3 separate regions of the Homo sapiens genome follow, and all the other regions are linked to region 3. The links come from fine-mapping of genetic effects on gene expression. A gene starts in region 3. Each other region holds a variant in brackets. All regions are shown on one strand. Distances are between the middles of the regions. Region 1 overlaps STS (steroid sulfatase). Region 2 has its middle 110 kb from the start of STS. Region 3 holds the start of STS (steroid sulfatase).

What was found. PIP is the estimated chance that this variant, and not a neighbour inherited with it, causes the effect.
Region 1: its variant is fine-mapped to the expression of STS in aorta (GTEx, PIP 0.99). The same link has a PIP of 0.9 or more in tibial artery.
Region 2: its variant is fine-mapped to the expression of STS in whole blood (TOPMed, PIP above 0.99).

The regions. Positions count from the first base shown.
Region 1 is chrX:7,350,178-7,354,381 of GRCh38, forward strand. STS (steroid sulfatase) reads left to right here. Exons shown (of 11, transcript NM_001320752.2): 11 at 1-4,204. The coding sequence ends at 84. Among named protein-coding and RNA genes, the nearest start is that of PUDP, 200 kb to the left of the region's middle. The variant G/A (reference allele first, on the strand shown) is at 2,476.
Region 2 is chrX:7,034,894-7,039,138 of GRCh38, forward strand. It overlaps a transcript of PUDP not described here. Among named protein-coding and RNA genes, the nearest start is that of STS, 110 kb to the right of the region's middle. The variant A/G (reference allele first, on the strand shown) is at 2,368.
Region 3 is chrX:7,146,097-7,150,341 of GRCh38, forward strand. STS (steroid sulfatase) reads left to right here and starts at 1,616. Exons shown (of 11, transcript NM_001320752.2): 1 at 1,616-1,987. It overlaps PUDP (pseudouridine 5'-phosphatase), which reads right to left and starts at 2,057. Exons shown (of 4, transcript NM_012080.5): 1 at 1,957-2,057. The coding sequence starts at 2,017. MIR4767 (microRNA 4767) reads left to right here and starts at 1,764; the gene lies at 1,764-1,841. RefSeq lists a silencer at 1,577-2,296 and an enhancer at 2,487-2,536.

The sequences.
Region 1 (4,204 bases), 200 kb after region 3:
CCCTGGCTTCAGCTGTGCTGTCCTTCCACCGGCCTGTCTTGCCAGTGTGATAGAGAAAAACAGGATAAGAGACTGAGCCGCTAGCAGCGCCTGGGGACCAGACAGACGCATGTGGCAAAGCTCACCATCTTCACTACAAACACGCCTGAGAGTGGCACTGGGGAAACATAACTCCATCTACACCTTGGATTTGGACTGATTCTCCATTTTATCACCTGAAGGCTTGGGCCAGAGCTCAACAGCTACTCAACTGGAGGGGTGAGGGGGATAAGGTCTGTAGTATACAGACAGGAAGATGGTAGGTTTATGCCTTCTGTGGCCAGAGTCTTGGACTCATGGAAATAGAATGAATAGAGGGGCATTCACAAGGCACACCAGTGCAAGCAGATGACAAAAAGGTGCAGAAGGCAATCTTAAAACAGAAAGGTGCAGGAGGTACCTTAACTCACCCCTCAGCAAATACCTATGTCAACAGTATAAGTTACCATTTACTCTATAATCTGCAGTGATGCAATAACCAGCATAATAAAAAGGCAATCACATAAAAAAGAGTTTAGTCGTCTAAACATAAGTAACTTTAAGGTGAATGAAAGATCTTCTTTAGGAATAATAGATGATGGTAAGTTCCACTTTGGTTATTGGAAGGCAAGTCATTATTACTGGTATTAGTTAAAACACATATCAAATGCTTGCTCTTCATCATATATATAGTTATGCATACATACACACACACACATACAGTATATTCTTTCCTCAAAAGGGTTAAGATGTCTAAAATAGGGACCTAGAAGCTTAACACTATTTAAGTAAATACAGTAGAAGCTCACAAATAGATTTCTTTGCACAATGATTTTTTGCAAAATTTTACAGTAATAATAATCCCAAGGCAAATCTCTCCTGAACTGCTTTCCATTCCATAATTTGTAGTATAATTCTTGGATTCCACTGTTTTCTTTGGGGAATGGAAGTTCTGAATTAAAAGCCCACTGTGGAGATGCTGTGGTTCATGGAATCTCTTCCAGTGTAATTCAGAATCATTGGCCTAGAAAGTCTCTGATATTTGGAGGGGAACAAAAATCACTCACAAGCAATCCATGATCTATACACATAAGCATAATTTCCTTTAGTTCTAGTTAGTCATCAGAGAACAGTCATGTATGCAAGTTTTGTGACTGAGAAATTTCTGTGCTTCCAATCCACAATGAGATGCATGATTTTGTTTTCATCCCATTTCCCCCAAGCCCCTGTAAATCAGGGAAAATGCGCAACTGATCGCCTAGGAGAGGGCCTCGTAGTGGCACAGCTGGAGATAGTTTCAAAGTCTAAACCACCAGCCCATCCTGAGGAAAGCCTCCTATGGAATGTAAAGTGCAATCATTTCTTCAGATATAAGACTTTCCCCAACAATGTGATTGGATTCCTTTATGGCAAAATCGAGAGAAGCTGCCATCCACCTGCTTATGCATTTATCTCTTTTGTGGACTTGTCTGACCACCTTCTATTTGCCCAGAGTTTGCTCAATTCCAAGACAGTGCCCATGAATGGGACACCTGTAATGTAACCCACACAGCGGTTTGCAGAGAATGTTAGCCATGACTTGGGCTTTCTGAAAGTTGGCTATAATTTCTCTATCCCTACCCACAACCCTGGGAAGTTGGAGCAAGAGGGGCATACTATTGGGCTGGGAGGATTTGACAGCATTTCCCCAGTTGCCCTTTAAGTTCTTCTATTTCAAACGTTAATTTTGCTTCTCTTTCTAAAAAAAAAAAAAAAAAAGAAAGAGAAGAAAGAAGTGATTCCTACCCCCTACCTCCAGAGTTGTTGAAAGCTGAAAAGCATACAAGATTCTTCCTTTTAACTTGGATTTCTCGTTCCAGAAATTGTGGGATAATCTGTATTCTTGCTTTAGAAAACATTCTTAGAGAGGGTACTAGCTTACTGATGATGTGTTAGGATTGCTACTGATGCTGTCATGTGGAAACTATTTAAAGGCACTATTATAAATTTATCCTATAAGATGACAATGTTTACTCAAAGTCTAACATATTCAATGCAAGTAAGACTTTCTGAAAACACTTGATGATGTGGAAATGCTGCAGGATTAAATAACTTGAAGAGCCTTTATAGATTATATGAATGCCTATTTGTGTCTAGAACCAGTTATTTAACCTGTAAAATGTCAATAGCAAATGAAGGATGAAGTATATCTCTAGATGCAAATACATTGAGTTTAAAAGTGCCTCAAAATAATTGAGATCACATTTCAGGACATTTGGAAATCAGGTCGATTTGTGGTAACTGTAGTCATCTTAAATTTCAAACCATTTACCATCTGAAAGTTTTGATTTGAATGTAAAACAGGAAATTGGAATTCCTTTGTCCAGGAGAAACCTCACAAACCTTCTTTAAGGCATAGTTTTGTTGTTTGTTTGCTTGTTTGTTGCAGGCTGTAAGGCATGGCTGCTTGTTTACAAA[G/A]CATCTCATTCATATTACCTGTGGAGTTGCATATCCAAACCTTAGTGAGTTTTGAAGCTTTAAGCAAATTCTTTTAAAAAATTCTTGTATTTCTAGCATTACTAGATATTAAAAGTTAAGCAAATAGATTAATGACGTATACATAGGCATCATTTCACAAGGTCAGTAATGCTGCAGGAAAAGCAAAATTGCAATCTACGTATCTATGGTACTAAGGAAGTCCTGTTTTTCAAAAATGGAAGCCCACTTCTCAGATTTTTCTGAAGGGCATACAATGAAAAGTGAAGGGGAAACACACACACACAAAAAAACAAGTATTTGGCTTGTCACAGGAATCTGATTGCATTAAGTGAAAGGATTATTTAGAATATGTTAATGCAAAGCTAAAATAAAATTTTCCTTGGCAATTAAAAATGCTGTGCGCTAATACCCTGCTTTCTATCGTGACTCAATTCAACAATGTGGGGAATGTTTACTACATTTCCAACTTGATGTCAAGCAATGGGGAATACAAGTTCCAGTTCTGCAAAGATTCGTCAACTTTCTTAGCTCAAGAGAGAGGCTGAGAAATGCAGAGAAGAATAAGACATAAAATAGCTCCGACCTCCATGATCCGAGAGTGGGAAAAGGCCCGATTATTACCCATAAGGCACACTCTCTAAGGCCTTTTAAGGGGCCTACAAAAATGTTTTATTTTATAATCAGAAGAAAAGGAAATGAACATTGGGGATTGAAAATCATATTGGTATTTGCACCAACATAGTCATAAAATAGTATGTTAATATGTTTTTACTTTATATATTTATATATTAAAATATATTTAATATGTTTTGCCTTTGTGGCCCATGAAAGTCTTACTGGGCCCTGGGGAAGGTATCCTACCCTGGTGAAGCAGCTGCTTTGCTCTACAAATACCTGGGGCAGAAATTTGATTTGAAAAGTATTATTCTCTCTTCTCTTTGTTTCAACTGGATTCCTTTGGAAAACCAAACTAGTATCAGAACAAACCCCGAAACAGTAAGAAATTGGAGTGAGAAGGGCATGGTATTGGGACTAGGATCGGCTCTCATTCGATCGAGCTATTCTCTTAAAATGACAAAAAGTGTCCATAAAGAGGCTGCTGGAGAGTGCGTGGCCATAGGGAGCCGACATGCCCGGGAGGAAAGGTGTTGATTACATGGATACTTCTAAAAGCTAAAGCCTTGTTGCCTTCTCTTTAATGCCTAGAGAATGGGATGTGTGATGCAAATGCTCAAAACCTCTTAAATCATAGCTGTCTGACCTCTACGGACCTCACATCCATCTGAGGCTTCATGGACAAAGATTCTCCACTTGGCCAAACTTTAGCCAAGCTCCTCAACCTTCTCCCAGGCCCAATCTGGGCACTTCCTTGTAAAATCTAGTTTTGGCAAGAAGTCTATTAGGTCAGTTTAGCAAGAACACCTAACCCCCCCATATCTGTTCAACCTCAGTATCTGATCAGGCTCCTCAGCCTCCACCATCCCCCAGGTGATGTCTGGTCAACTGGCCTGCCTTCAGCTAGAATCCTGTTAGGTCGGTTTAGATGAATGCTCCCTGATATTTCCTCTTGGTAATCTTCCATCCACTGCCCCTGACCCTGTTCCCTGTCTATAAATCCCCAGTTTTCCATGGTGTATTCAGAGCTGAGTCCAGTCTCTCTCCCCTACTACAAGTCCCCATTGCTGTGGTCCCCGTACCTGTCATGATG
Region 2 (4,245 bases), 110 kb before region 3:
TAGTTCTCTATCTTCAAAGAGAGTTATTTTTAATTTTATTAGGGGATACATTCTTTTTTTATAAAGAAATTATTAGGTATCAAAACACCACAATCTCTTTATGGATTCAACTAGATTATGTGTATGGGCAAAGTATTTTCAAGTTAAGAATAACATTCCTGTTCCTTGAACACTATTTTGAAAGTTTGGATTAAGGGATATTAACTTCCTTAAGACAAAACAGACTCACAGTTGAAAACCACCCACCTTCTGTATAGAAGTTGCTTAATTAATATCAATGATTTTTATTGTATTGGAACAAAATAGACTATAACTTTTTATACGATATATATGGGTTTATTACTAAATATTCTTAAAATGAATATAATGCTATAATATTCTTATTTTGAGGTAATATATACATAGTCTGCAAAAATTAGGTTTCCTGGTGTCATTAACCACTTATGCAATTATTTTTCTGAAATGAATACACATGCTGTACATGCAGTTTTGCCTGATATAAGTTTTAAAACAATGTATATTGGAATCTTGGAACTAAAAATGAGAAAATCAGTGTCCCCTTGATGTCAATTTCAGTTTCAACTGCACTTGCTATTTTATTTTTAATTGGTTACATTATCTCTACATTGTCACAGTTGATGGTATTTGTTTTCTTCTCTGGGACCATAATTTCCACAGATTTAACCATAATGCATCCTTAAAGATTACAAGAAATCTTTTAGACACAGCTCCTCTCAGTTGCTGAGGATCCAGCCTTTACTCATTTGTTTTCTTCATGAATATATATTTCCTGAGTTGTATGTTTGTACATAGCTATTTGTAGCCTTTGAAGTTTATGGAAGTTTGTTTGGTTGCATTCTTGGGGCACATTTTCTTTCCCTGAGGACTGTTAAGGTTTGGATATTTGATCCTTCCAAAGCTCATGTTGAAATTTAGTCCCCAATATTGGAGGCTGGGCCTAATAGAAGCTGTTTGGGTCATGGGGACAGATCCCTCCCATTGAATAGATTAATGTCCTCTCCTGATGGTGAATGAATTCTTCCTCTATTAGTTCCTGCAAGACCTGGTTGTTAAAAGAGCGGGCCACCTCCCCGGTTTCTCTCTTGCTTCCTCGCTCATGTAATCTCTGCACATGCTGGCTTCCCCTCCTCTTCTGCCATGAGTGGGAGCAGGCTGTGGCCATCACCAGACAAAGATGCCCAATTTTGAACTTTCCAGCCACCAGAATCATAAGCCAAATCATCCCTTTTCCTTTATAAATTATCCAGCCTCAGGTATTCTTTATAGCAACACAAAAGGGACAAGGACTTTTTATATCTTGCCCCACTGTCTTCTAGCATTTCATGTGTCACATAAAGAAATCTTAGCCTCCTAGGTTTTTGTTTTTTTTGAATATCCACAGAATTCTTTCCATAACTTCAAATACCAGGAATTTATTGGGATATTTGTTAATTATTCAATATAAACACAGCCTTGTAATTCTTGGGCTATTTCTGTCTGCAGATTCAAATTTCATTGTATTTCAGGAATTTCACCTTGAATTGTATCTTTGAAAATTTGTTTTCATGTTCCATTCATTTTTTAACCCATGCAAGGCATTTAGTGTTATAGATATTTGATCTCTTCCCTACCACCCCCTCCCATCCCCCTCTTTTTCTCTATCTCTGTCTTCCATCTTTTACTTTTTGTTCTTTTCCATCTCACATGCTCATTTTTTCTTCTCAAAACCATCCTTCAAATTCTTTCAGTGGTGTCTCATCTCCTTTTTGCTGCTTCTATCATGACCTTTGATTTTGGTCTCTTTTTGTGTCTCTCTCTCTGAGATTCTGAGGCTCTGCCTATTCCGTTTTTATTCTCATTTGTTTCTAATTTGTTTCCAAGACTCTGTCTGCTCCCTTTTCATTCTCATTTATTAGTAATTTATTTCTGAGGCTTTACCCACTCACTTTTCATTCCCGTCTAACCTAATGTATTATCAGTTCTTCCTTAAAGCCTTATATTGCTTCTTTAAATTCTCATTTCAGAGAAACAATATTGTCTTTAATTGATTCCTTAGAAATAACTTTGTTCACGGTTTTTGGCTGCGTTGTGGTATACAATCTTTCCGGTTCTCATCTTCATAAATCATGTTCTGTTCTTCTTTTTTCATTTCAGCATCATTTTAAAGGCCCCCGGCTGGCTCCACCCTTTTTAAGTAGCACTGTTCCTCATCTTTTTGGACTAGAATTTTGGGCAAAGTTCTGGGGAAAGGGGAAGAGGAATGTGCTAAACAAATGGGAAGATTGGTTTCAGTCTGTTATCTCTGGGATTTTTCTCAGCTGGACTTGGCCTGTGGGTTATCTGGTCCAGCATAGCAGGACATCTTCC[A/G]GGCTCACAAGGAGGCTGTGCATTTTACAGAACATTTTAATGTGATTATTTTACCTTGACTTATCTTCACCAGGCAGCTTTGGGCAAAGATGGCCAGGTAGCTTTTATCTTATTGACTCTTCCTTCTATCCTATGCCATGATTGAAACATGATGTAGGCTTCCAAAACCAGGACATGAACCTTGATCTTAACTTTCTAAGCATGGGATAAACACATTTCCTTTCAATGTGTGCCACCCAACCACTTTGGATAACTATGAACTGGGTCCACTCTGCCTGAGTCACACATAGACAGACACCTTCTCTTGGAGTTCCCAAATACCTCCATCCACTTTTCATACACTTGGCTATCTTCCTGCATCTACTGTGATCCAGGGTTATAGGGGATCTGTAGCTTCATCAAAGATAACATTTGTTTGTTTCTTATTCTCTTGTTTGCTTTGGATTGGTTTCATAAAGGAAATGAGACAAAAATATACTTATACTACCATTTGAAAAGAAAAGATAAATTCCTTCTTTCAAATTCATTCCTTTTTTTTTCTTTCCAATGAATCTCATGGGGTGAGGGGAGGACTGAAGAGAATGTCTAATCTACTCAAATCCAAAAAGTCACAGGTATAAGGCACAGAAAATTTTACCAGTATAATGATGGCAGTTTTAATGCTATATAAGGACAGACTATGCAAAAATGCTGTTAATGAGGATGAGGAGCTACAGAACAAACCTGATGAGGAACTGTAATTCTATGAGAATGATGTATATAGCCATCATTTTTTTTCTTTAATCCAAAACAATTAGATTGCTTATATAGACAGCCACATTCAATTCTAAGCTATTTGATTGAAATGCACCAGAGGATGCAGATATATATATATCCTTTTACCTTAATTTCCATTTTATTCTTTCCCTCCCATTTTATCTGTGCTATAGAGTACATTTTTCCCACTTGAGCTCAACATGCTGTTGTGCAGAAAGCCTTCTCTTGGGAGTTCCCAAAATGTTGGCCCAGATGAGTGGAGCAGACATTTGGCCCAGGTGAGCATAGCACATATTTACATGAAATATTAGGGAGCATCCATCTGGGCTATGTGACGTAGGCTGGCAATACACGAAAGAGGATTCTGATTTGTTGTATAAATCACCTTCAGAGCCCCCAACAGTGAACACATAGGGGGTTCTTTTCATTTTCATGATGCTTAATATAATCCTTAAAAATAATTAAAATTAGGTGAAGTGTGTAGATTTCTGAGAGATTACAGAAAGACACTAGTTTTGATACCTCTTGCTTGTAGCATTTGACTGATGTAAACAAACTAAAAGGTTTAAAAAGAACAGGGATTCTTCCCAGTAGTATAGTGCAATGGGTAGGGAAAAAAAGCTCAAAATTGATAAATAGACCAATATTATTCTCAAAACTCATACCATTGTGATTGGGAAGAAATTAATACATATTACTTAGTCACTTCATGTTACTATATACTTCTATTAAAACAGCAAAAAGGAAATTATAGGAAAAAAGTCATACATTTAAAGGATGGAAGAAAATCCTAGGTTTACTCAGAGCTCAAGATCCCATTGGGATGAATATCGTTCTTTCCTCGGATTGTTCCTTCATTTCATTCATTCACTTATGTATGCATTTATTTATTTAGAGATGGGGTCTATTTCTGTATTTATTTATTTATTGATTGATGGAGTATTGCTCTGTTGCCCAGGCTGGAGTATAGTGGCACAATCATAGCTCACTGCAGCCTTGAACTCCTGGGCTCAAGTGATGCTCCTGCATCAGCCTCCTGAGTAGCTGGGACTACAGGTGTTTGCCACCATGCCCCGCTAATTTTTAAGTTTTTTTGTATTGATTGGGTCTCCCTATGTTGCC
Region 3 (4,245 bases):
GGTAGGGCAGGAAAGGAGGAAATGGGCAGAAAATGAGGGGGGGGAATAAAAAGAAGCAGGGCTTATTTTTCCAAATAGCACTAATTCTTGGTTATCTGACTAGATCAGAGGATTGGGTAACAATGTGAGGTCAATGCTTGTAATGCCATTTAAGTCACATTCATCACTTCAGGGCATGGCTATGTGTGAATCTAGAATCAGAATTAGGCACCAAGCTCATTTAGAAGTTTAATAAATTTAATTTTAATGAGACATCTTGTTTGGTATTAAAATTCATGAGACTCCCAGAACAGGTTCTCTGGACCTTTATTAGAGGATAAGAAATTTATTTGACAATTTAACTTTTTGACCACCGGAGTAGGAAAATTCATGTCTACAAACTATACCTATGTATCCCACAAGCTTTCTGAAATTGAGTCATTTCAAATTTAGTAGCTGCATACACCGTTGGCTCCAATTAGTGACCTCTACGGGGATTTTTTTTTTCCTTTGGAATTCATCAGTTTACACCTCTGTGTTCATAAAATGAAGAGAATGGTTTCTGCATGCCTTTTTAAAAGGAAACACTGCTAGGGAATTACCCAGCAATATGATGAGCAGAAACAAGGTCACATTCACAATTTAAGATGAGCTCAACATCATTTATATTTAGAACTGGATCAATCCAGAATCGTTTCTCAGCTTGGCTTATTAGCTGTGTGACCTTGGGCAAGTAGCTTTACCTCTCTGAGCTGCAGGGTTTTTTTTTTTTTTTTTTTTTTAATTAGTGACATGCAAATACTTCCTCCTAACTTGCAGGGTTTTGAAATGAAGGAATGATATACGTAACCAAGCAGGTCAGCTGTCTACAAAGAGTATGCAGACATGTTTATAGATATATGAAGCCTCCTGGTGATTATGTGTCATAGTGTTAACTGTGTCAAGGCTTTCGGTAGAGCTCAGCATAGTTCTGTCTTGAGTTAAAAACAGGGTTTTATTCTTTGAATTCTACTTGAATTCCTCTTGGCTGGTGAAGTTCACATGTGCTAAGACTGACTACCTTAGTACACTGCCAAGGGTTTCTTAATGCCTCGGATTGATAGAGCAGCTGTTCTCAAACGTTCACGCGCTTAAAATGCAGATTCTGATTGGGCAGGGGTAGGGTGGGGCCCCAGCTTCTACATTTACAAGTAGCCCACAGGTGATGTCCCCGGTGCTGGTCACCCTAGGCAGCCAGGCCACTTGACGGACCTTCTGTGCCTCTACACTGTTGACGGCGCGGGATAATTCCTTATGGTTGCATAGGGCACTCCTGTGCACTGCGGGAAGTTTAACAGTATCACTGGTCTGGACTCCACTAGATGCCAGTGACCCCATCACTCCTCGCCAGCTGTGACAGCCAAAATGTCTCCTGACATCGCCATTGCCAGATGCCCTCAGGGCTGCAAAACCGCCAGGTAGAGAACCGCTACCATGCAGGATGCTACCATCAAAGTGCGCCCACAGCAGCAACCTTGGAGCAGGCAGGCAAGTATCCTCCAGGCTACTTTGCAGACGGGGAAGCTGAGGCTGGGCACCGCTCAAGGTCGCACGCATGCGTAACCGAAAAGAGAGCGCGGAGGTCCCGCCGCGCCTCGCTCTGAGGAGAGGACGCGGAGCCGCGCGCCCGCCCGGTGGACCCCAGGGACTGCTCCCACGTGCTCCGGCCCCACGCGCGGGCCGCCGACCGGAAGCGGGTGCTGGGGCCGCGTAGACGCCGCGGCCACGCGCGCCCGCCAGCCCGGACATGGGCCCGCGGGCGCTCCTGGCCGCCGCCCGACTTCGGGGCCAGCCGGGGGCAGAGCGCGCGGGAGCCCGAGCGTCCCTGCATGAACACCGCCCCGCCGCGGCCCCCAGGCCGTGACGTACCCCGCGCCGACCGTCCCCACGCCCACACAAGACCGCCCTTACTGGAGGCGGCGGCTGCACACTACCCACCCAGAAGAAGTCCGTCCATGTCAAAGATGAGGTGGGTGACGGGCTGCGGGGGCGCCGCCATGGTGGCGCCTTCTGGGTCTGGGTGGGGGCGAGGAGGAAGTGCGCGCGCACCCGCCCGCCCCGCGCACGCGCACTGAGGACCTTCTCGCGCGCCCGGGGTCGCTCTGCGCACGCGCCTTCCGCGGCCCCTCGCCCGGCTCCGAGCCCGCGCGTCCTGGGCTGCCTAGTGGCGCTCCGCGCACGCGCACCTTGGGCTTTCGCCGCAGCTGTAGCTGCAGACCCGGGATGCGGCGCGGGCCGGCGCTGTATGTTTACCCGCATCAATTCCTCCTCACTTCACACCCGGAATCGGGCCAAGCTACTCAGCCAGCGGCCGCGCAGAGCCGAGGCCCTCGTCTGGGGACAAATTCAGTGCTTGAGTTTGGATCAGGGGTGTGAATGAGGAAGGAGGGACAGTACAAGGGGCTGTAGAGTGGGGAAAGGGGATTGAAGATGCTCAGGGTGGTATCACTTCTAGCCATCAGGTTGCAGACAAATGGCCTTGGTCAGGAGGTCCCTGGGTGGGTTCGCCCGAGCCCCCAGTCCCTGGACCGTGGGTGGGTTTTTCTCAGTTTCGCTTGCCCGCCTCCTTGCGGTCCTGGACCGCGACTTGAACCGGCAGCCGCGCATGCGCAGTGTGCGGAGAGGCTGCACAACCTCCGTGCCTGCATCTCTGAGCATCCCAGGCTGGTGCATTGTCCCAGAGCAAAGCCAAGCTGCTCAAGGAGGATGCTGAAATAATACTAACAGTCAACATGTCTTGCTGGTTGTGCCTTCTTAGGTATCATCTGTCTTTTGGGCTGCTCTGAGTTTTCTTTCTTTTTTAACTTTTCAAATGCCACCTAAACAGCTTTCTTTTTTTTTTTTCCCGTTTGCCATCGTCAAAAAAATACTTTTTTGTCCCTGTTTCTATTTCGTGTTCGTTTATGTGGTATATTCACGTTTAAGGAAAAGGATTGGACCTTTTGAGAAGCGGAAATAGGAGAATTTCAAGACTTTAAAAACGTGAGGGTGTGCTGGGCGCAGTGGCCCACACCTGTAATCCCAGTACTTAGGGAGGCAGAAGTGGGAGTTGGGGGAATAGTTTGAGCCCAGAAGTTTAAGAACTGCCTGGGCAATATAGCGAGACCCTGTTCTCCACAAAAGGGGAAAAAGACAAAAAAAAAAAGGTGTAAACATGAGAGTGTATTTCTAGTTTAGTGCAGACATAGTGGACAGGGGCATGCCTGGATTCAGCAAGAATTATTATCTATGATAGACAAAGTGCACCTGTGTCTGTTTCCTCCTGGGTAAAATGGAGGTGATAAAGGAGGTGAGGCAGGCCAAGCCCTTAGTACCAGTGCATAATATATAGTCAATAAAATTATGTGTTCTTAGAGGTGGTACTATAAGAGAGCTTCCCCCATTTAATGCAATCGTGATTTCCCTTTGAGGACACGGGATTTCAGAGAAGGCAATTTATGAGCAAATTAGGTAGGGACTTGCGCCTCAAATACAGTCGTTCGTGGTTTCTGTATTAGTTTACTACAGCTGCCATAGTAATATACCACAGACTAAGTAACCTAAACAGCAGATGTGTATTGTGTCACAGATCTGGAGGCCAGAAGTCCTAGATCAAGATGTCAGCAGTCTTAATTCCTTCTGAGGGCTGTGAGGAAAGGACCTATTCCAGGTCTTTCTCCTCAGCTTGAACCTGCTTTCCTTTCCCTGTATCTTGTCCTATCGTCTTCCCTCTGTGTGTGTCTCTGTGTCCAAATTTTCTCCTTTTATAAGAACACGATTCTTATTGGACTAAGGACCACCCTAATAACTACATTTTAATTTGATTACCTCTGACAAAATCCTGTTTCCAAATAAGGTCACATTCTGAGGTAGCGGGGATGAGGACTCCAACATATATTTTTGGGAACACAATTCCATAATAGATGCATTGCACACACATAGCTGTGGTACCTACAGTAAGTATGACAGTATTTCCCACCTGGAGTCTGTAGAATTCTCCCTCCCAGTTTCCTTCCATTCTCTGGAAACAAATGGATGCACACATGTCAGAGTTACTGTTATTTTTTTGGTATTGTAACCACCTCACATTTCTGTTTAGTCATTAAATTAAAAAAGAGTATTTTTCTTTTTTCTTTCTTCTTTTATGAGACAGAGTCTCACTCTGTCACCCAGGCTGGAGCACGGTGGCGCAATCTCTGCTCACTGCAGCCTCAGCCTCCTGGGTTCAAGTGATTCTCCTGCCTCAGC